7 linked regions of the Homo sapiens genome follow. The protein of the gene in region 5 purifies or fractionates together with the protein of the main gene of each other region. This does not show direct contact. Each region holds a gene or a part of one and is shown on either strand. Other genes may lie near its edges.

The links.
Region 1: the proteins of FOXRED2 (region 5) and GALK1 purify together in Homo sapiens (affinity purification with mass spectrometry; one large-scale study listed by BioGRID and IntAct). This does not show direct contact.
Region 2: the proteins of FOXRED2 (region 5) and MCM3AP purify together in Homo sapiens (affinity purification with mass spectrometry; one large-scale study listed by BioGRID and IntAct). This does not show direct contact.
Region 3: the proteins of FOXRED2 (region 5) and ACTG2 purify together in Homo sapiens (affinity purification with mass spectrometry; one large-scale study listed by BioGRID and IntAct). This does not show direct contact.
Region 4: the proteins of FOXRED2 (region 5) and CHCHD6 purify together in Homo sapiens (affinity purification with mass spectrometry; one large-scale study listed by BioGRID and IntAct). This does not show direct contact.
Region 6: the proteins of FOXRED2 (region 5) and CLPB purify together in Homo sapiens (affinity purification with mass spectrometry; one large-scale study listed by BioGRID and IntAct). This does not show direct contact.
Region 7: the proteins of FOXRED2 (region 5) and RBM45 purify together in Homo sapiens (affinity purification with mass spectrometry; 2 studies listed by BioGRID and IntAct, with this or other methods). This does not show direct contact.

The regions. Positions count from the first base shown.
Region 1 is NC_000017.11:75,757,394-75,759,793, reverse strand, and holds the end of GALK1 (galactokinase), read left to right. Parts: intron 1-1,194; coding exon 1,195-1,345; intron 1,346-1,421; coding exon 1,422-1,584; intron 1,585-1,666; coding exon 1,667-1,738; 3' UTR 1,739-1,900; downstream 1,901-2,400. Other genes in the region: ITGB4 (integrin beta-4), read right to left, coding at 2,239-2,378. UniProt on the Homo sapiens protein: Catalyzes the transfer of a phosphate from ATP to alpha-D-galactose and participates in the first committed step in the catabolism of galactose.
Region 2 is NC_000021.9:46,234,633-46,237,622, reverse strand, and holds the end of MCM3AP (germinal-center associated nuclear protein), read left to right. Parts: intron 1-643; coding exon 644-794; intron 795-1,296; exon of another isoform or gene 1,297-1,399; intron 1,400-2,196; coding exon 2,197-2,355; 3' UTR 2,356-2,490; downstream 2,491-2,990.
Region 3 is NC_000002.12:73,913,508-73,917,007, forward strand, and holds part of ACTG2 (actin, gamma-enteric smooth muscle isoform 1 precursor), read left to right. Parts: coding exon 1-139; intron 140-1,172; coding exon 1,173-1,364; intron 1,365-3,076; coding exon 3,077-3,258; intron 3,259-3,500. UniProt on the Homo sapiens protein: Actins are highly conserved proteins that are involved in various types of cell motility and are ubiquitously expressed in all eukaryotic cells.
Region 4 is NC_000003.12:126,724,740-126,728,239, forward strand, and holds part of CHCHD6 (MICOS complex subunit MIC25), read left to right. Parts: intron 1-2,338; coding exon 2,339-2,447; intron 2,448-3,500. UniProt on the Homo sapiens protein: Component of the MICOS complex, a large protein complex of the mitochondrial inner membrane that plays crucial roles in the maintenance of crista junctions, inner membrane architecture, and formation of contact sites to the outer membrane.
Region 5 is NC_000022.11:36,486,690-36,490,040, reverse strand, and holds the end of FOXRED2 (FAD-dependent oxidoreductase domain-containing protein 2 isoform 1 precursor), read left to right. Parts: coding exon 1-33; 3' UTR 34-2,851; downstream 2,852-3,351.
Region 6 is NC_000011.10:72,295,032-72,298,531, reverse strand, and holds part of CLPB (mitochondrial disaggregase), read left to right. Parts: intron 1-2,883; coding exon 2,884-3,040; intron 3,041-3,500. UniProt on the Homo sapiens protein: Functions as a regulatory ATPase and participates in secretion/protein trafficking process. Has ATP-dependent protein disaggregase activity and is required to maintain the solubility of key mitochondrial proteins.
Region 7 is NC_000002.12:178,122,437-178,125,936, reverse strand, and holds part of RBM45 (RNA-binding protein 45), read right to left. Parts: intron 2,416-3,500; coding exon 2,286-2,415; intron 2,110-2,285; coding exon 2,025-2,109; intron 1,811-2,024; coding exon 1,647-1,810; intron 1-1,646. UniProt on the Homo sapiens protein: RNA-binding protein with binding specificity for poly(C). May play an important role in neural development.

The sequences.
Region 1 (2,400 bases), on a different chromosome or scaffold from region 5:
CGAGGGACCTCCCTGTCCTTTTCCTTTGTGAACTGTGTCACGTTCTCCAGAGCAGTGCTCAGACCTGCCCTGCCTGCTCTGTGCAGATGCCCTTGGCCAAGGTTTTCACACTGGAACAAGTTGGTCCCTCCTCCCCACCCCAGCCTGTCCTTGCCCCTCCTCCAGGTCTCCTTCTGCATAGGAGCAGCTCACCCTGCCTCCTCCAGAGTCCTGCCCTAGAAGCGCAATCCCTCTCCTTCCATCCCCTGCCTGGCTGCCTGGCTCCTTCCCTCAGCCTCCAAGACATGCTCAGTTTTCTTCCCTCCTAAAACACCACCCACTGTCTCATTTCCATTCATTTCTTTCTTTCTTTCTTTCTTTTTTTTTGAGAGGGAGCCTCACTCTGTCACCCAGGCTGAAGTGCAGTGGCATGATCTCCACTCACTGCAACCTCCGCCTCCCAGGTTCAAGCAATTCTCCTGCCTCAGCCTCCTGAGTAGCTGCGATTACAGGCGCCTGCCACGATGCCCGGCTAACTTTTGTATTTTTAGTAGAGACGGGGTTTCGCCATGTTGGCCAGGCTGGTCTCGAGCTCCTGACCTCAGGCAATCTGCCTGCCTCAGCTTCCCAAAGTGCTGGGATTACAGGTGTGAGCCACCGCGCCCACCCATTCATTTCTCAGTCCTTTGAATCTACTTGCCCCTCCATCCCGCCATGCCACCTACCCTAACAACCTTCCCCCTTAAACCTGCGGGTTTGGCCGGGCGCAGTACACTGAGTCAGTACTGGTACTGACCCAGGTACCCCTCCAGCCTCAGCTCCAGTCAGATGGGACAGCCTGCTGGTCCCTGGCTGCTTCTGCCCCCTCTTCTGGAGCCCCAGCCCTGGAGGCTCCATGTGGCTCAGCAGAACTTCTTCTCCTCCTGCTCTGTGGTGGCCTCTTGAGGGCAGCACTCACCTTGGAAAGCATGGAGTGTTTCAACCCTCACTGCTCCCTGAAGGACCAAGGTGTCCCATTTTACAGTCGGGGGAGGAGGCACTGTGATAAAGGGGCTCTTCAGACCCACGTCTGAGAGAGCCAGGCTGCCCTGCCCCCGCGGCCTTCCACCCTTCACCGTCCAGCCAGGGCCACTGCCATCACCGCCTGCTGGTCCTCACAGGCGTCGGGGCCCCAGGCAGTGAGAAGGCGGCTGCTGACTCCTCTTTCCTCCCCAGCTGCCAGGGACCTGGTGAGCAAAGAGGGCTTCCGGCGGGCCCGGCACGTGGTGGGGGAGATTCGGCGCACGGCCCAGGCAGCGGCCGCCCTGAGACGTGGCGACTACAGAGCCTTTGGCCGCCTCATGGTGGAGAGCCACCGCTCACTCAGGTGAGGCCCTCTGGGCGCCCCGCTCCTGCCGGGCACAGGCCGGCCCAGGCCCACCCCTTCAATATCCTCTCTGCAGAGACGACTATGAGGTGAGCTGCCCAGAGCTGGACCAGCTGGTGGAGGCTGCGCTTGCTGTGCCTGGGGTTTATGGCAGCCGCATGACGGGCGGTGGCTTCGGTGGCTGCACGGTGACACTGCTGGAGGCCTCCGCTGCTCCCCACGCCATGCGGCACATCCAGGTGGGCGGGCACCAGGGCCTGGGCGGGCAGGAGCGGCAGCTTCCCGGGGCCCTGCCACTCACCCCCAGCCCGCCTCTTACAGGAGCACTACGGCGGGACTGCCACCTTCTACCTCTCTCAAGCAGCCGATGGAGCCAAGGTGCTGTGCTTGTGAGGCACCCCCAGGACAGCACACGGTGAGGGTGCGGGGCCTGCAGGCCAGTCCCACGGCTCTGTGCCCGGTGCCATCTTCCATATCCGGGTGCTCAATAAACTTGTGCCTCCAATGTGGTACCTGCCTCCTCTAGAGGTGGGTGTATGCTTGGGTGTCAGAGAATGGGGGATGTCAGAACCGCTCCCCTACCCTAGGGGAGCACCTCTCAGGCCCCAGAAGAATGGGCAAGGCAGGGCCTAGCAGTAGCAAAACCATTTATTAAGTGCAGAACAAAGGCTGGGTCCTTGTGCTGCTCCCAGCTCTTTGGTTACAAATAGGTTTGGGCCCACAGAGGACGGACCTTGCCCCCTTCATGCCTCCCAGGAGACACCTAGCCCCTGCTCTGTGCATGCGGGTGGGCTGGGCCCCCAGGGGTGCAAGGATGGAGTAGCTGAGGAGGCTCCGGGAGAGGAGTCGGGAGGACGCCTAGTGGGACGTGGCGGGGGTGGGGCAGGGTGCGGTCAAGTTTGGAAGAACTGTTGGTCCATGTGGGTGCTAAGGGTTCCGCTGGTGGTCAGTGTCCGGCTCACAAACTCCTGGGTCACATGCCGGGTGAGGGAGCCGCCTGCCTCCAGGTGCTGGGCCCCCAGGGTCAGCCCATCTGTGGAGGAGGAGGCATTAGA
Region 2 (2,990 bases), on a different chromosome or scaffold from region 5:
GAGTTGTAGACTAGCCTGACAATACAGCAAAATCCCGTTTCTACAAAAAAATACAAAAATTAGCTGGGTGGCATGCGCCTCTAGTCCCAGGTATTTGGGAGGCTGAGGTGAGATCATTTGAGCTTGGGAGGTCAAGGTTGCAGTGAGCCAAGATTGTAACACTGCACTCCGGCCTGGCCAACAGAGCGAGACCTTGTCAAAAAAAAATAATAATAAAATTGGCCAAGCACAGTGGCTCACTCCTGTAATCCCAGCACTTTGGGAGGCCGAGGTGGGTGGATCACCTGAGGTCAGGAGTTCAAGACCAGCTTGGGCAATATGGTGAAACCCCATCTCTACTAAAAGTACAAAAAATTAGCTGGGCACAGTGGCACTTGCCTATAATCCCAGCTACTCAGGAGGCTGACGCAGGAGAATCACTTGAACCTGGGAGGCAGAGGTTGCACTGACCCGAGATTATGCCACTGCACTCCAGCCTGGGCAACAGAGTGAGACTCTGTCTCAAAAAAAAAAAAAAAAAAATTATATAAAATTTTAAAAAAGCAAAGGCTTAAAAAGTTTTTAAGTATATATAGAAGATTAATGAACAATAGTTAACTTCCTAATGCTCAAATATTTTTGAATTTATTACATATTGTTTCAGGTTTGAAGATCAGCTTCAGCAATGGTTGTCTGAAGACTCAGGAGCATTTACGGATTTAACTTCCCTTCCCCTCTATCTTCCTCAGACTCTAGTGTCTCTTTCTCACACTATTGAACCTGTGATGAAAACATCTGTAACTACTAGCCCACAGGTGAGAAGAACGTATACATTTGGCATTTACATAAGAATTAAAGATTGAGAGAATGGCTGGGGAAAAAAGTAATATCACGATTTATCCTATGATGTTTTGATGACCGACAAATTATTAGCTCAAATTAGACCTTTTCTTAAACTTTATCCATATCATTGTTAAAGAGACCCAACTGATTTTGAGTTTCTGCCTACGAAATAAATGAAGAATAGAATTGAAATATTCTTAAGAACTGAATAAGACCTGTAACTGTGTGCTGATGTGTAATTAAGGGCATTAAGGTGATGACAGCAGCTTCTGTTGGAGCACATATTGTCTGAGCTTTGGCATTACCCAGACCTCTCTTCTGGGATTAATTTTTCCTGAGGAAAACTAATGAATGAGGAAGGTAAGCTCCCAGAAGTCAAGAGCCTCACCCAAGAGTGTTCAAGTAGTGAGTGGTCAGGTTGCTTTTCAAAGCCAGATCCAACTGGCTCCAAAGCCTAAGGTCTTTTTACCTTACCATTCTTCCTTCAGTGGTTAAAGATGCAAAAACAGAGTTTCAATCACAGATATGTGCCACTGAACAGGTAAAAACTGTGCTCCTGGACTGGCTTTAGGAAGTCCTTCAATAGAGGAGAAAAGCAAATTAAAATGATGTACTGTTTCCATTCATCAGTTTGGCAAATACTTTAAAAATATTCATACCCTTTGAATTACCAATTCTAACCTAAAGAATTCTGACCTACCAGATATTCCCCAAAAATTAATGTATAAAAATGTTTACTGTAGCATTATTGTATGAAAGTCGAAACAGAATAAATATCCGAAGATGGGAGTCTGATTAAACAATTATAACACATTCATGTGATAGAATAATTCACAGCCCTTGACGATGATATTTTCTAAAAATGACTGGCTGGGCGTGGTGGCTCATGCCTGTAATCCCAGCACTTTGGGAGGCTGATGAGGGAGGATCGCTTAAGTCCAGGAGCTTGAGTCCAGCCTGGGCAACATAAAGAGATCTCATCTCTACAGTACATAATTAGCCAGGCATGGTGCTACATGCCTGTTGTCCCAGCTACTCAGGAGGCTGAGCTGGTAGGATCACTTGAGCCCAGGAGTTTGAGGCTGCAGTAAGCTCCGATCATACCACTGCGTTCCAGCCTGGGTGAAAAATGACTGACACTGGAAATTGTTCATGATAGAATACAAAGGCAAACAGTCTATATACAGATACCAGCTGAATGTACGAGCTAAATGAGGCTGGAAGGATATACAAAGGATAATTTTTTTCCCTCTGTAAAAATAAATGACTACTCAGATGAGGTTTCTAACATGATCCAGATCTAGTACCTTCCCAGAGATAGGTCGTGGTTTATTGACATCCCAAAACTGTTCAGTTTCTTTTTTATTCAAATAGAGTGACATGATGAGGGAGCAACTGCAGCTGTCAGAGGCGACAGGAACGTGTCTAGGCGAACGACTAAAGCACCTGGAAAGGCTGATCCGGAGTTCAAGGGAAGAGGAAGTTGCCTCTGAGCTCCATCTCTCTGCGCTGCTAGACATGGTGGACATTTGAGCAGCCTGACCTGTGGGGAGGGGGTCTCTCCCGAAGAGTTTCTGTTTTTACTCAAAATAATGTTATTCTCAGATGCTTGATGCACTGTTGGAAATGTGATTAATTTAATCATGCAGATAAACCATTTAAATGTCAGTCTCCCAGTTTTTCATAATGAAAAGTTGTTTCCCCTGTGTGACCTCTTCAATATTCTCCTATATTCATGACCTCCTCAGATTGTCACCCACCAGCATATGCTCTGAGGCAGTTTAGAGCTTACATTTCCATGTATAAAAGGCGATTCATTCTCTCAGCAAACTTGCAGTCCTTGATGTGCCAGACATCAGTGATGCAGAGATAAAGTAAGACACAGGGCCTCTGCCTGCTAAGCCCACCCAGCTTACATCCAGGAGAGTCAGGTACTTATGTACATAATTCTCAGAGAATGTGCATGAGGCGTGGGCCTGAATTGGTAGCAAGGAAAAAACAGAGGATGGAACAGGGTCTGGTTGGGTAGAGGAGAAACAGAATTCCCGGAGAGGAGTGCAGGGGTGTAGCTGGAGACAGTGTACTTGAGAGGACATGATGAAAGCGTGGAGGTACCAGCTTGGTTGTGTGGCCAGGTGAGGGGAACAGGCCAGCAGGGTGAGGTCAGA
Region 3 (3,500 bases), on a different chromosome or scaffold from region 5:
GGCGTCACCCACAATGTCCCCATCTATGAAGGCTATGCCCTGCCCCATGCCATCATGCGCCTGGACTTGGCTGGCCGTGACCTCACGGACTACCTCATGAAGATCCTCACAGAGAGAGGCTATTCCTTTGTGACCACAGGTATCCAGCCCCTTTTCTGATTCTGACTGGAGCTCAGAACCAATCTGGTTTAGGACAAGAAGTTCTCAGGACCAATGAGAATTCTGTGACTCTGTGTCTTTAAACTCTCCTGAGATAGACTGAGAGGCCTTAAGCTGGGGCTAGGCCTCTGGATAAGACCAGATAGTCATGGAAGCAGTCCCTCCTTCCCCAGAGACCAGCTGCCTCTGTCCACGTCCACACCAGGACTAGGGCTAGTTTCCACAGGCTGAATGGTAGTGAAGATCTGCTGATGCATTTCATTACCTAGGGGCACCTTTGGTTTGAGGACAAATTGAATAAGTGAGGCCCGAATTTCTAAGGGGAAGGTGTCATGTGGCCCACCTGGGCAATCGGCATTTTTTAGGTGGGAGCCTCTCTAGGTTCTGTAAGATCAAACATCTGAGTCTAGACCAGAAATATGTCCTGCAAAGCCCCCAGGAAGGCCTAAGGCTTTGTCAGAAATCTCATGCAAAGTCCTGCATGGGAATCAAGACTTGAGACTCCCTCTTTAGAAAGAGGAGTGGAAGAATTAAGATTGAATGGAGTGACGCTTGACCCTCTTCGCGGCAAGTCTATCATCATCCTATGACTGAACCTAAAGTAGACGTGAGGCCAGGCGTGGTGGCTCACGCCTGTAATCCCAGTACTTTGGGAGGCCAAGCAGGCAGATCACTTGAGGTCAGGAGTTCTAGACCAGCCTGGCCAACATGGTGAAATCCTGTCTCTACTGAAAACACAAAAATTAGCCGAGCTTAGTGGCGCACGCCTGTAATTCCAGCTACTTGGGAGGCTGAGGCAGGAGAATTGCTTGAACTCAGGAGGTAGAGGTTGCAGTGAGCCAAGATAGCACCACTGCACTTCAGTCTGGGTGACAGAGTGAGACTCTGTCTCAAAAAAAAAAAAAAAAAAAGAATAAAGTAGATGTGAGAAGGAGGTTTTCATGGAGATCAAAATGGGACAACCAAACTATCAGAGCTCAGTATTCACCTTCTGTCATTTCTGCTCCTTCCAGCTGAGAGAGAAATTGTGCGAGACATCAAGGAGAAGCTGTGCTATGTGGCCCTGGATTTTGAGAATGAGATGGCCACAGCAGCTTCCTCTTCCTCCCTGGAGAAGAGCTATGAGCTGCCAGATGGGCAGGTTATCACCATTGGCAATGAGCGCTTCCGCTGCCCTGAGACCCTCTTCCAGCCTTCCTTTATTGGTGAGGTGCTGCCCACAGTCCCTGCCAATCTCAGGAGGGGAGGGTGGAGGAGTGGGTGAGGTATGGAGAGAGAAACACCAGGAGTCATGGCCACTTTGTTAATTACATACACGTACCTCACATTTTCCTAGGAAGGGCCAAAAATGTATTTTAAAAAAAATTAGGGAAAAATCTCATTTTAAATAAAAGGGAAAGGAAATCAAGATACAGGAAAAGCAGAACAGGAAATATAACATGAAACTTAAGAATGAGGTTAAAACACAGAAAGTTTGTAGGCAGCAATGTAGCAAGGTCAGGTTGTAGTTTAGCAAGATTCTTCTATCTACAGTGTGGAATCATATTGCATGGATAAAAGACCGGAGGCTTGGCCAGGCGCGGTGGCTCACGCCTGTAATCCCAGCACTTTGGGAGGCTGAGGCAGGCAGATCACTTGAGCCTGTGAGTTTGAGACCAGACTGGGCAACATAGCGAAACCCCATCTCTATGAAAAATACAAAATTTAGCAGGGCATGGTGGTGCATGCCCATGGTCCCAGATACTCAGGAGGCTGAGGTGGGAGAATCGCTTGAGCCGCAGAGATCAAGGCTGCAGTGAGCCGTGATTGTGTCACTGCACTCCAGCCTGGGCAACAGGGTGAGATTCTGTCTCAAAAAAAAAAAAAAAAAAGAGTAGAGGTAAGTAGACCAGGCAGATGGCAAGAGCCAGTTTGGCGTGCAGGACCTTTTGCTCTAGAAGACTGTGATGCCAGGCTACAGTAGCTGGATGTCAACCTGCAGGCAATGGGTGACTGTCAGATGACATGACGAGTATATCCATACAATGGAATCTTATTTGGCAATAAAAGGGAATGAAGTATTGATCCATGCTGTGACCTTGAAAACATTATACTAAGTGAAAGGAGCCACACACAGAAGACCATATGGTGTATGATTCCATTGACAAGAAACATCCAGAATAGGCAAACCTCTAAAGACAGAAAGTGGATTCACTGTTACCTAGGGCTGGGGCAGGGATGGAGGGGAAAATGGGGAGTGACCGCTATTAGGTATGGGGGTCTCTTTTGAAGGTATTTAAAATGTTCTAAAATTAGATTTTGGTGATGTTTGCTTCTGTGGATATACTGAAAATGACTGAATTATATCTCAAAAAGTTATGAAAAAAGAAAGATGATATAACAAAAGTGTTCCTTTAGAAATATGCTTCAGGCAACAGTATAAAAGATCAGGCCGGGTGTAATACCTCGCGCCTGTAATCCCAGCACTTTGGGAGGCCGAGATGAGTGGATCACAAGGTCAGGAGATGGAGACCATCCTGGTCAACATGGTGAAACCCCATCTCTACTAAAAATACAAAATTTAGCTGGGCGTGGTGGCATGTGCTTGTAATCCCAGCTACTCGGGAGGCTGAGACATGAGAATCACTTGAACCAGGGATCAGAGGTTGCAGTGAGCTGAGATCGCGCCACTGCACTCCAGCCTGGTGACAGAGCAGACTCCATCTCAGAAAAAAAAAAAAAAAAGATCAATCAGAACTGGGGACAATAAAGGAAAGGCCATGACAAGGAAGGGGGTATGATCTTATAATCCTTCTGGGAGATATTAAGGTTCTGAACTAGGGTAGTTGCAACAATCGAAGAAGGGTCATTTGAGGAGCTGGAGGTGTGCATATTTAGGAAGTGATGCCTGTTGACCAGACACTGTGATCTCCACTAGGCATGGAGTCCGCTGGAATTCATGAGACAACCTACAATTCCATCATGAAGTGTGACATTGACATCCGTAAGGACTTATATGCCAACAATGTCCTCTCTGGGGGCACCACCATGTACCCTGGCATTGCTGACAGGATGCAGAAGGAGATCACAGCCCTGGCCCCCAGCACCATGAAGATCAAGGTGGGTCTTGCCTCAGTTGTCTCCATCCTGTTCTTTGTATAAAGTCTTGCCTACCTGGGAGTTCCTCGGAGGCAGACTGCCAGACCTGATAACTTGCTGGTCTCCTGGGTTCAATATCATCCTGGACTGGAGCCAATTTTATCCTACGGAATTATGTTCCTTGGGCATTGATGGGCTGAAGACCCACTTAGCATGGATCTCAAACATAATCCCAGGAATGTCACATGAGAAGAGGCTGAAAG
Region 4 (3,500 bases), on a different chromosome or scaffold from region 5:
ACTAAGTTTATGATCCTATTCTAAATCCTTTGTTGTCATTTCAGCAGTGTTCACAGCATCTTCACCAGGAGCAGATTCCATCTCAAGAAACCACTTTCTTTCCTCATCCATAAGAAGCAACTCCTCATCTGTTCAAATTTGATCCTGAGATTGCAGCAATTCAGTCACATCCTCAGGCTCCACTTCTAATTCTACTTCTCTTGCTGTTTCCACAACATCTGCAGTGACTTCTCCATTGAAGTCTTGAACCCCTCAGAGTCATCCATGAGGGTTGGAATCTACTTCTTTTAGACTCCTATTAATATTGATTTTTTGACCTCTTCCCATGAATCATGAATGTTCTTAATGGCATCAGAATAGTGAGTCCTTTCCTTGGAGTTCTCAGTTTACTTTTCCCAGGTCCATCAGAGGAGTCACTATGTATGGCAGCTCTAAGCTTATAAATGAATTTCTTAAATAATAAGACTTGAAAGTAAAAATTACTCCTTGATCCATGGGCTACAGAATGGATGCTGTGTTAGGAGGCATGAAAATAACATTCATCTTGTACATCTCCATCAGAGCTTTTGGGTGACCAGGTGCATTGTCAAGGAGCAGTAATATTTTGAATGGATTCTTTTTTGCTGAGCAGTAGGTCTCAACAGTGGGCTTAAAGTATTCAGTAAAACATGTTGTAAACAGATGTTCTGTCATCTAGACTCTGTTGTTCCATTTCTAGAGCACTGGCAGAGTAGATTGAATATCATTCTTAAAGGCCCTAGAGTTTTCAGAAGGCTAAATGAACATTGGCTTCCATTAAAAGTCACCAACTGCATTACCCCCTAACAAGAGAGTCAGCCTGTCCTTTGAAGGTTTGAAGCCAGGCATTGATTTCTCCCCTCTAGCTATGAAAGTCTTAGATGGCATCTTTTCCCAGTAGAAGACTGTTCTGTTTAGTATTGCTACCTTCATCAATGATCTTACATAGATCTTCTGGATAACTTGCTGCAGCCTCTCCATCAGCACTTGCTGCTTCACCTTGCACTTTTATGTTATGGAGATGGTGTCTTTACTTAAGTCTTATGAACCAACCTTGGCTCACTTCAGTCTTTTCTTCTGCAGCTTCCTCACCTCTCTCAGCCTTGACTGAATTGAAAAGAGAGAGAGCCTTGGGCTTGATTAGGCTTTTGCTTAAGGGAATACGGTGGCTGGTTTGATCTTCTATCCAGACCACTAAAACTTTTTCCATATCAGCAGTGAGTCCGTTTCACTTTCTTACCATTCATGTGTTCACAGGAGTAGCACATGTAACTTCTTTCAACAACTTTTCCTAACTTGGCTAACTGTTAGGTGCAACAGGCCTAGCTCTCGGCCTATCTTAGCTTTCGACATGCCTTCCTCACTAAGCTTAATCATTTGTAGTTTTTAATTTAAAGTGAGAGACATGGGACTTTTCATTTGAACACTTAGAGGCCATTGCAGGGTTATTAATTGGCCTAATTTTGTTGTGTCTCAGGGGATAGAAAGGCCCAAGGAGAGGGAGAGAGACAGGGGTCGGGGAATGGCTCATTGCTGGAGCCATCAGAACACAACAGCATTTATCGGTTAAGTTCGCCGTCTTACATGGACAATGTTCTCAGTGTCCCAAAACAATTACAAGAGTAACATGAAATGTCACTGATCACAGATCACTGTAACAGATATAACAATGAAAAAGCTTCAAGTATCATGAGAATTATCAAAACATGACTGAGAGACACAAAGTACATGCTGTTGGAAAGACAGCACCAGTAGACTTGCCTGATGCAGGCTTGCCACAGACCTTCAACTTGTAAAAAAAAAAATGTGTTATCTGCAAAGTGGAATAAAGAGAAATGTGATAGAAGGAGGTACCTGTGCTTCACTTGCATGCTGTCGAGGAGCAGCCTTCCCTGGAGAAGGGGACATTGAGATACCTCCAAAGAAAGGATATGATTTGGATGGGTGGAGATGTCCCAGAGAGGGAGGTGGTGGGCTGGAGGTGGTTCAGAGGGAAGAGCATGCCTGAATTCAGAAGAGGTGAGAAAAGTGAGACATCAGGTTCCCCTGAGGACTGGGTGTGTGGAGGGAAGTGGTGGGGGTAAAGCCGCAAAGCCAGCAGGGGACATATATTGGTAGGCTTGGGAATCCGGATGGGCTCAGCATGGACCTGGTAGGCACTGGGCCACCACGAGAGGAGTTTTAGTAGAATTGCTTTGTTGGAGTTGGTCTTGAGGAAGCAGCGCATTCAGTAAATCTGGGGCCTGAATAAAGAGGAGGCTTTGCTTCCAGGCACTTCTGTGACATAACTTTTTCTTTTCCCTCTTTTCTGCTTCCTTAGCTGTCTGAAAACGTGGTGAACCGCATGAAGGAGCCCAGCTCTCCACCCCCTGCTCCCACATCTTCTACCTTTGGCCTTCAAGATGGCAACTTGAGAGCCCCTCACAAAGGTATGGGGATTGTGACAGTTCTGTGGAGTGTGGAGAGACAGTGAAAGGAGTGATGGGTGCTCACCCGAGCCCACCTGATGGCGCACAGGGCTCAGGTTGGCTTCTGGATGACGTTAAGCAGCTCTGTCTGGTAAGGGCTTTCCGGAAGAGCATGGCTTTCTGGGAGTGATGGGGCTGTCATCAGAGCTGCCGGGATTCGGGTCGGACCACCTTCCCTCTGTGCCACTTTCTCCATGTGGGAATTGAGGCAGAAGGACCTGAGTTGACAGCTCAGGAAAGAAGTTGCCTTTAAGGCTCCTCAGAGGCGGCATAGCCATGACTCAGCTTCAGCCACTCTAGCCTAACTCCCAAGTCAAAGAATGATGTGGATTCACGTGAACAGGGCCAAGTATAGGAGAATTCCGTCAGTGATTTAGGCGCCTACCGCAGCAGCCCTCACCTGAGCCTCAGGCCGAGAGCTCCTGTCCTGGCCCTTGGAATGGTTCCCTCTGGGCTTCTAGGAGGGGTCCTAGGAGTTCCTCTTCCTGGCCCACTGTGAAGCTGGTGCTCAAGCCGGGCTCAAAGCTGATTTGTTCCCTACTGTATTGTGCGTGTTGCAAATGAAGAAATTTGTGCTTTCCCCAAATAACGACTTGTAGCAAACACAAGGAAATAAAATTTTAAGGAAAAAAGTTCTAAGGCATACAAATGTTAAAATATTACAAAATAAAAAAGTCCTTGGAGCAACTGCTCAAAACATACTTGTTTTTGAGAACTTGGGTCTGTCTATCAGATTCCGTAACTCAATTAAAAAAAAAAAAAGATTGGCTGGAGGCAGCATGCCACCACGGAAGGACCGACTGTTCAGGTGGATAACCACCCACTAGATTGTTCTTCTTGGGCCTGGTCTCGCGTTACAGTTGCCTTTTCTACTCATCTTCCCTGTTGGGTTGAAAGAGTTTAGAATATGAGAGCTGTATCCTGCCCACTTAGTGTTTACTGAAGGCCACCCAGAACCAAGTCCTGTGCCCTGTGCCAAGACACAGTGATAGGTGGGCAGGGACCCTCTCTCAT
Region 5 (3,351 bases):
CAGTCCGTCGATAGCAACAAAGAGGAGCTCTGACTGTCCCTTCCTAAGCTGTGGGCACAGTGGCCAGGCCTCCCCACCTAGGCCCATGGTCAGTCCCTCTTTCCCCGCAACCTCACACTCCCGCCAATGCGTGATTGCCAAAGACCACTCAGATCATGGCAGTGTCTGCAGCAAAGCCACCAGATGGCACGTGAGGGCTGAAAGTCGGGGATGCGGTGGTCTCCTCCCTCCTGTCAGGGGGCAGAAGGGCATCCTCTGCCAGGTGGGAGCTGCCTTCCCCAGCCCAGTTTGTCTGCAATGGAGCTGTCGCTGAGCCCCAGGCCAGCCCAGTTCTGCCCCGTCTCAAGTGCTCCTCTTCCTTCCAAGCCCCTCCTCAGATGGGCCTGCATCCCGCCTGTGGAGTGCTTCACAGGGGAAACCCATCCGCATCTTAAGAGTTTGTGGCAAGCGCTTTAAAACAAAAGCTCTGATATCCTCAACAACCACAATGGGCAGGTGGGATTGTTGCCCCAGATGACTGCTGAAGACACCAGCTGTGGGATGTCAAGTAATTCCAGGGACCCCCAGCTGGGAGTCCCCGTCTGTGTCACTTGCCACACACTGCCTCAACCTCCCCGCCCCATTTTCAGCAGGGTTTGGGCTTAGCTACAGAGCCCAAGAGGGTCAGCCCTGCTTATCATCATAGGCCCAGCAGGCTGATCTCGAGCAGCGATAGGACAGCTCCCTGCAAAGCCATCTTAGCAACTTTCTCACTGAGAAGCAGGATTCAGAGCTGCTCTCCCCAGTTGCACCCCCTGACTCATCTTCCAGCTGGCTCTTCTCTCCCATCCTACTCCCTTCTGTCTCCCTGCCCTCTGCCATCCTGAACCATGCCTTGCTTCTAACCTGCCTGGTCAAGTTTTGTGAAACTTATCCTGCTGTCTCGGGCTGGCACCCATATGTGCTCACCATGTGTAAGGTGACATTTCCAAATGCCTTTGTGTGATAATGATGATGAATTTGGTTCCTAGTCTCTTCTTCATTGCCCTTCCTCACCAGCAATCTGCACTTTCCCATCAGGCGTCTTAGTCTCATTTGTAAGTGCATAAGATAATCACAGTGATTTTTCAAAGCCCAGGATCATAAGTGATTGCTTTTTCACTGGTTCTTACTAACTCTTCATGTATCCACTCAGAATTCCAAGGACAATCCCAGCACTCTGGGAGGCCCAGGCAGGTGGATCACCTGAGGTCAGGAGTTTGAGACCAGCCTGACCAACATGGAGAAACCCTATCTCTACTAAAAATACAAAACTAGCCAGGCGTGGTAGCACATGTCTATAATCCCAGCTACTGGAGAGGCTGAGGCAGGAGAATCACTTAAACCCGGGAGGCAGAGGTTGCAGTGAGCCGAGATTGCGCCATTGCACTCCAGCCTAGGTAACAAGAGGGAAACTCCATCTCAAAAAATAAGTTAATTAAATTAAATTAAAATAAAACATGCGCTGGGTACAGTTGCTTACACCTGTAATCCCAGCACTTTGGGAGGCCAAAGTGGGCCGATCACCTGAGCTCAGGAATTCGAGACCAGCCTGGCCAACATAGCAAAACCTTGTCTCTACTAACGGTAAAAAAAATTAGCTGGGCATGGTGGAGCATGCCTGTCATCCCAGCTACTTGGGAAGCTGAGGCAGGAGAATTGCTTGAACCTGGGAGGTGGAGGTTGCAGTGAGCAGAGACCGAGCCACTGTACTCCAGCCTAGGTGACAAAGCAAGACCCACAGTAAAGCCCCCACACCCCATCTCAAAAAAATAAAAAATAAAAAAGAACAAAGTATGCTACAACAAAAGTGAAAAGAGAAAAAGAATTCCAAGAACCCGGGCTTTCTGGATCCAAAGCTCTTTCATGGGGACGTCCTCTTCCCCTCTTGGCTTGGTCCAGACTTTTTCTTTTTCTTTTTTTTTTTTTTTGCAATGGATTTCGCTCTTGTCACCCAGGCTGGAGTGCAATGGCACGATGTCGGCTCACTGCAACTTCTGCCTCCCGGGTCTAAACAATTCTCTTCCCTCAACCTCCCAAGTAGCTGGGATTACAAGCGCCTGCCACCACGCCCAGCTAATTTTTGTATTTTTAGTAGAGACAGGGTTTCACCACATTGGCCAGGCTGGTCTCGAACTCCTGACCTCAGGTGATCCACCTGTCTTGGCCTCCTAAAGTGTTGGGATTACAGGCATGAGCCACCACGCTCGGCCCAGTCCAGACTTTTTAACTACCTGGCCCCACTGCAGACACAGTTCCCTCTAGTCCTTCCCAGAGTTACAAGAAGAGAACTCCAGTAGCCTTATTCTGTCAGGGACGAATTGTTTACCCCATGATAATGTAGGATATCATAAATTCTTCTTCAAAGGTTTTAGCCTGTAATTTGTTAAGTACATTGAGTTCTGAGATCCTCTCCAAAGAACCAATGTATCAGTATGTTCAGCTCACCTGTTCTTTGTTCTTCATTTTAACTTTTAATTTCCTCATTCTTTATGTCTCCTTGCCCCTAGTTTCAGTAAACAATCCCCTCCTAGCCTCTGTCACCTGCTCTGACCTGAGTCACCTTTAGTCACCTGGTCCGTAACCATCTTTCCTGTCTAAACTTCTCACCCCACCACTCTGGCTTATACCCCTGCTCTCTTTAAAATAGCCAGTCAGAATTAGCTTAGATTGTGCGGTCCAACCCTAGCCCATAGGGGAACAACACAGCAGTAGGGGGTACCTGCATCAGGGATAAGAACCCATTCCCCTCCCTTGTTCCGGTGTGCTCTCGCCATTGCACCATCCATGAGACGCACTCTTGTATAGAAGTAAAATTGCCTTGCTGAGAAAATGTATGTTTGAGTGCTATTTCTTTTGTGGCACTGAAAATTTATTTCTAACAAATTTGGGGTCTCATTTGGGATTCCCATCCTCCTCTGAGGAGGGTCTAGACCTCTCCCATGAGGAGGCACGTCCCACTGCCTTGTTGCGGTGGCCACAGGGGTAAGGAATCGAGACCAACCAGTGTGACGAATAAACCTATACTCTCAGCAAGGCAGAAAGAAACGGGCTGGCGACCTGGGGGAAAGGATCCTCATGTACCACAGCGACCAAGTAAGTGTGCAGAGACCAAGCTAAGAAACATCGCAGGGGTGACAAAGTATTTCCTTGGTGGTCAGGATATTCTGGGGGTTGAAAGTGTGCATGAATGCAAGGAGCCTCCAGCAGGTGGGGCTAAAGGATAGGCGAGACATCTCCAACAGGGGAGATTGAGCTTAACCAGGACCCAAGATGGGAAATGCCCCAAGTAAGGTAAGAGATAAAAAGGAGAAAGCTAGCAACAGTAATATT
Region 6 (3,500 bases), on a different chromosome or scaffold from region 5:
AGCCAGACCCTGTCTCAAAAACAAAAAAGAGCCAACCAAAAGAATGTGGCTCATTCATTTATTCATGAGGCGCTGTGTGGGGTAGAGGGGACACTGACAAAACAGATGCAGCCCTGGCCTTGGCGTGACCAATGAGTGCGGAGACAGGCAGCTAAAAAGTAGTTCAGTCCACTGTGGTCGGTGCTGCGCTAGGGACAAGCAGCAAGTGCCAGGAGTTGTAGGGGCACCTAATCCAGGCTGGAGGTGTGAGGGAAGCAGCCTCACCCCTACCCAGTCTAGTTCTCCCAAGCCTGGGCCCAGAAAAGTAAGAACCCTATTGCTCTCATCAAAGCACCAAGCAGGTCTACTGCTGGCCACTCACAGGTGACCCCAGGGCAGAAGTCCCAGAAAGAGACTAGTCCCCAGAGAGCCCAGCCCCCACTCCTCCCACCAAGGAGTCATACGTGAGACAGTGGGAAAGCAGCCCCATAACCCTGGGGTGAGCATTCAAGCCCCACCCAAGATGTGCACGCTCTGGTTGTTAGAGGGAGGTGAGGCACGGACAGCTTCCTGTTTGAGACACATCTTTATTGCTAAGGAAACTGAGGAGGAGACATGAGCACTGAAAGTCACCCTTTGGGTCAGTCATGCACTGCACCTGCTCCCCTCACCCACCTGGGACCCATCCTCAGGCCCAGTTATGAGCAGAGCTTTGATCTCTGAGAATGAAATTGCTGCTAGGTTATTGCTCTGGCCAGTATAGCAGTGTGTGAACCCAGTCCTTAGGGATGAGCTCTGCAAAGTGAGTATGGAACACACACACAGTCATATGCACATGCTTGGACATGTCACACACACACACACACACACACACACACACACACACACACACACACACACACACACACACACACACCTGGTCCCCAAAACTAGAACTGCCCTCAGTGGATCTGTTAGATTAGAACCCATAAGCAGTGGGGTAAGAGTGAAAAGCTGCTGGTAAAAGCTCAAGGACATCTGCTTGCACCCTTGCTTCCCTTTTCCTGCCCCAAGGCAGGGACAGCAGAGTGACCAGCTCCAGGATGTGGATTACCAGGCCCCTTGTGTATAGACCCTTTGGGAATTAACAGTTTCTCAAAGGCCTCTGCCAAGGTCCAGTGGAAAGCAAGGCTGGAAACTACACCCAGCATGCAGTAAGCTAGCTCGGTTGATGCACAGTCCTTTCTCCTTTGCTCCTAAGGAGTAGGACTGGGTTTACCATTACACTGGCTTTAGAAGCAAGGGCTAACCCTGAAGCTCGGGCAGGGCCCAGCATCCCTGGCTCAGGCAGGAGCCAACAGGCTGAGGTCAGTGATGTATATCCCCAGAGCCACGGTTTCTGGCTTGGCGGGAGCTGTGCTTTCTCTGCTTCCCAAAAGAAATCTCAGGTAGATCTCCTCCCTAGCACCTGTCCCAGTTGCATCTCTCCAGTGAGGATCAAACTGAATTTGGCAGAATTCTGAGAAAATTCTGTCGAAGGAAAGAAAATAGCACGAGGCCTCATTCATCCAGCACCATTGGTCTGACCTCTGTAGCCTGGTGCAGAGGAAGGGCATGGGCTCTGAGGTCAGATAGTTCAAGTCTCGCCTCTACTGTATCCTAGCTGTGAAACCTCGAACAAGTTATGATCCTCTCTGAGCCTCAGTTTCTTTGTAGGGGTCCTAACTGCACCTACCTCCAAGGGTGGATGTGAAGATTCCAGCCTCCAGCAAGCAGGTGTCAAACACCTACTCTGTACCGGACGCTGTTCTGGGACACAGTGATGAACAAGACCCAGCCTCTGTTGTCAAGGAGCCACTTTCCTAGTAGAAGGAGTGGGGTTGTACACAAAAAGCACTAAGCAGAGCATCTGTGATGAAAGTAGAAGTCCCTGTCCGTGTTCGGCATTGTCACTCTATTGCTTGCTCTCAAGGAGTCCCTGATCATTGCTTTTGTTATAAATGACATAAAGTGCTGTTGTACGGTCATGCCCTTGAGGTTCGCTGAGTGAGCGGGGCTCTGTACCCTTCAACTGATTGGTCCCAGAACACTGTACTTTTATCATTCTTCTGTCTCTGCCCTATACTGTTTGCTCCTTTTCTCCTTCTTTGGTGCATCTTTCTCCAGTATAGATGCCTCCTTTGTCCCTTCTAGAAAGAGCTGAAGATTCCAAGGAAACTTCCCAAGGTGGTTAAAGAAGCAATCTCATTTTTTATCCCTGTTAGGCCAGGCGGCAGCTCCAAAGATAAAAGAGGTTGTCCTGTTTCATTATATATCACCTACTACAGTAATAATAGCTCTGAACATTTGAACAGCATGGTTTACTAAGAATTTTCACCAGATAACCACATCTAGTCCTGACAGTAGCCATGTAAAGTACCCTCCTCTGAATTCCTGCAGCATGCTGGGCTTCCCTTTATTATCATACGTAACATATTGGATGGTCAGTGCTTGTTTCCTGTATCTCACTGCTTCTCTATACTGGGAGCATGTTGTAGGCTCAGTGGGACCCCAGTACCCCACCACAGATCCTGGCCCACAGCGGGCCTCCAAAAAATGTGTTGGTTGCACAAATGAATGGCTAACTGTGACTGACTTCTGCATGCCAGGGATAGTTGGGTGCCCCAAGAGATGCCAGAGAGCAACTGCAGCCTCACCTGGAGGCACTCAGTAGGGAGAGCAGTTGCAGCGCAGGGCGGTGAGCACAGCAGCCAAGGTGCAAGTCTAGTGCTCGGAGAACCCAGAGGAGGAAGCAGCTGGCTGCTGGGGCTGGAGGGAGACACAGGGCTCTGGGGAGGCCTCCTGAAGGAGGTGAGAACTGAGAGTGCTAAGGCCTGCCCAGGCACATAGCTCCCTGACTGTACACTCCCTTCCTTCCCTTCCCAGGGCCGGCTGACAGATGGAAAAGGGAAGACCATTGATTGCAAGGACGCCATCTTCATCATGACCTCCAATGTGGCCAGCGACGAGATCGCACAGCACGCGCTGCAGCTGAGGCAGGAAGCTTTGGAGATGAGCCGTAACCGTATTGCCGAAAACCTGGGTATGGCGGCTGACCTGAGCAGTCTGGTCCAGTGACCAAGCCACCAGCCTATCTCCTGGGGAAGGATGGGATTGGGGCCCTGGGCCCAGGTGAAGGTTCTAGTGGGCAGCTCTGTCCCTAGCTGACACTGAGCAGATATCAGACACCATACCAAGTAGTGGGGGTTGAGACAAAAGAGACAGAGACCCCACTTCAAGAAAGCCTCAAGTCTGTTGGGTGATAAGAGGGCTCCAGGCAGGAATGGACAGAGCTACACCAGGGTGGGGGGCCAGAAGCTGCTCAGTGTCTTAGGGGACTGAGGAGATGCACATGCAAGAGACACAGATGCTTTGGTGCAAGAAGGGGACAGCAGATCGAAAACTCTATGGCAGTGGACACAGCCTTGTTCACCCAGGGCAGCTTCCTGCGTAGGTGGGCCATGGAGAGTGCTGAAAAAAAGGAGCACATCCGGCAGGAAGCT
Region 7 (3,500 bases), on a different chromosome or scaffold from region 5:
TGCTCAGGTCTAAAATTTGGAGTCCATTCTTGACTCCATTTTCACCCTTCTCCCCAGATCCAACATCCAACTCATGTCAATCTTAAACATCTCAGTCAATTCTATTCATTCTCATTCAGATCTCTCTTCTCATTCAGACCATCATCTTTTCCTTAATCTAACTCCTTTTTCACTAGTTTCCTTACCCCTGAGCTTGTCCCTCTTCAATCCATTTTTCACTCTGTCTTCTGAGTGATCTTTCTAAAACATAAATATGATCATTTACTCCCTAAAAGTCCCCTCAGCAGCTCCCCATTGCCTCCATGGTGACAACAAATTCCTTAATATAGCTCTAGAGCCGTTCTGACATTGTCCTTGGACTCTTTAGTTTCATCTTCCTTAACAATCTCTCAAATTCCCTATTTAACAGCCCTTCTTTTACATTCTCTATGGCAGAAATAACCATGCATACCCCCAGCTTTCACCTGTGGAGAAATTATTTTTATACTTCAGGTCTCCACATACACCTTCCTTCTTTCAAGGCTTCTCAGAGTTTCTAAGGTAACTGCTCCTCCTTTGTATCTTACACATTCCTTATCACAGCAACAATCACCCTGGGTTGTAATTTTCTGTTTACTTGTCTGTTTCCTACATGAGATCAGCTCTAAGAGGACAAGAATCATAATGTCTTGTCCATTTAATATTTTGTTTACATGTCTCTTGTACTTAGCACAGTTCCTGCCTTGAACAAAGAGGAGGTTCAAGAAGAAAACTAAATATATCAGTTAAATAAAGGTCAAAATACTTGAACCATATCCTGATATTTTTTTCCTTTTGAGCCTCAATATACTATCACATTATGTCCCTGATATTTTGTGCAGCTCTTTAACAAGCTTCCTGTCTATCAAATTCACTAACATTCTTGTAAGGCAAATGGGAAAAAGGCCTAAAAGAAAAAGCAAAGAAAGGAGTTATGTTAAAAACACAAAAATAAATAAGAACCTTCCCTTTTTTATTATAAAAAACATTTATGTATTTTTCCCTACAATCAAGTAATTGTTTACACAATGCGACTGCATAACCCTTAAGGATCCTACAATGCACCAACAAAACAGAAGATGCTTAGCAAAAAAAACACAAAAAACAAAAAGGGTCTCACTCTGTCACCCAGGCTGGAGTACAGTAGCACAATCTTGGCTCACTGCAACCTCGACCTCCTGGGCAAAAGCAATCCTGCCACCTTAGCCTCCCAAGTATCTGCGACCACAGGCATGTACCACCATGCCTGGCTAATTCTTGTATTTTTTGTAGAGATGGGGTTTTGCCATATTGCCCAGTCTGGTCTTGAACTCCTGAGCTCAAGCGATCCCCTGACCTCGGCCTCCCAAAGTGTTGGGATTACAGGCATGAGCCACTGCACCAGGCCCACTTTATGTTTCAAAAACAAAATAGCAGGAAATTCTCTATGGAGCCTTAGGATGTGTGACTGATAAACAAGAGAAGAAAATAATCAGAAATTGAAAAAGATGATACAAATAAGGAGGTTTTAAAAGCAGAGAACTAATACTCTCTACTTGATAGGTACTGGGTGAAGGAAGTGTCTAGATTATAAGAATAATTAAATTACTAGTGTAAATAAAATATAACAAAAAATGTAACTTTCTTACCAGAATATATCTTCTAATACGTCTAAAGGTAAAGGATGAGGATTAAACACAATAAAAAGTCTTTCTTTCACAGGAGTTTCAGCAGGAGCTTTTTTTTTGCATGATGGAAGTACAACATCTGTCTGGATTTGAGGCAACTGTGATCCAGAGCTTCCTCCAAATTGCTGTTAACAGGTAGAAAACAAGAAAAAGAAAAAAATGCCCTTTAGGGATTTTTGGCCAAGAGCTAAAGACAGATATGTATCATGGCATCTATGTGGTCTTCCACAATAGCTCTGAAAATTTTCATACACAGATAATCAACAAAGCATGATTTCTCTTCACATTTATTTTATATGCTATTGATATATTATAAAGGTTAAATTCTTACCTACTTACCATAAATTGTTGCTGACTTGGGTTATTCCACACCATTGATGCAAGCTGTGCAGCTACCATCTGTGTTGCCATTTTTCTAAGGAGACTGGAAAAAATAACTGATAATTTACAGAAAACTAAAAATATTCAGTCTTTTAACAGTAGCTTGTTTTGTGTGACTTTCTCACCTGAGAGGTCAATTGTTTCTATTTTTATTCTTCAAGTCCTATCAATCATGTACACTCAAAGCTCGGCTTTAGACACTCCTGGAATGGTACTTACTCTGTTGCATTACTTCCATCATCAATGAAGGAAACACCTATTCGGTTCCCAGGAGGGTACTGAAATCCATGTAATTTGTATTTTGCATAAATAGCTGATGCTACATTAAAATACTGAACCACTCCATGACCTAAAATAGAGAACATACAGAAATGAAAAAGGAAAGCAGACTGAGTGCCTAAGGCCTATGTTACAATCTATCACAAAAATGAAACCATGTAGAACTCTAATATCACACAACTAGTAAATACAGAATCGAATGTATCAGAAAACACAGTTCTGTTATCATGTGTGCAACAGGTGTATTCCTAGAAAAGGAAGAAATAATTTAGGGAAAAATATGAACATGATATTTTAGGGAAAATGGAATATTAACATACGTCCTGTCTAATAAGTTTAGTTTTAGGATACTAGCTTTTCTTATATGATACCAATATACTTAAAAGTCTAAATTTTTATTCTTTGAAATCTACTTTGAAATTTTAAGATTTTCCCAACCATACTGGGTAGGAAATGAAATGAGAAGTGATAGTTGAAAAGAATATATACTCATCCCGGCTATCTGCAGCAGTAGGGAGAGGAAAAGTGATTTGAATGAAAAACAAAAAGATAGGGAACAGAGGATCTCAGATCACAAGTGATATATTTTACTTTCCTTTGGAGAGATTTCTGCCAAAGGGACGAATTTCAATTTAGGAGGGTGATGTTGAAGGGAGGGACAATGTTATAATGCATTCCTTAGAGAGCCCAGGAGTTTGTGACACAACTAAAAGGTTTTCACTTTTATAATACAAACCACTGGGGAAACACTTATAATTTATGTTCATCTGGAAACCCAAGCATCCAACATTTTAATGAAATTAAAATAAAACACAGAAATCAAATGACCATATAAAGTTAATTCAAATGAGATTCGAACTATATGATGACACCTCTATTAATAAAAAGATGTTCCAATGACACATATATTTCAGACACATCCAACCAGAGAAACAAAACAGGAGGTACAGGAACAAATACATTTTGACATACCAGATAAAAGGGAGGGAACAAAACAAAATGAACACAACTTCATATGCATATAACAAATGTGCCAGAGAACACAAAAATGTGTGCCTAGAAGTCTTAGAACAGAGAATGACGCATATGATCGGGTTAAGACTGGGGATGGCTCAAAGACAGTTCTACAAAAAGACTAGTGCTGGGTTGGGTACT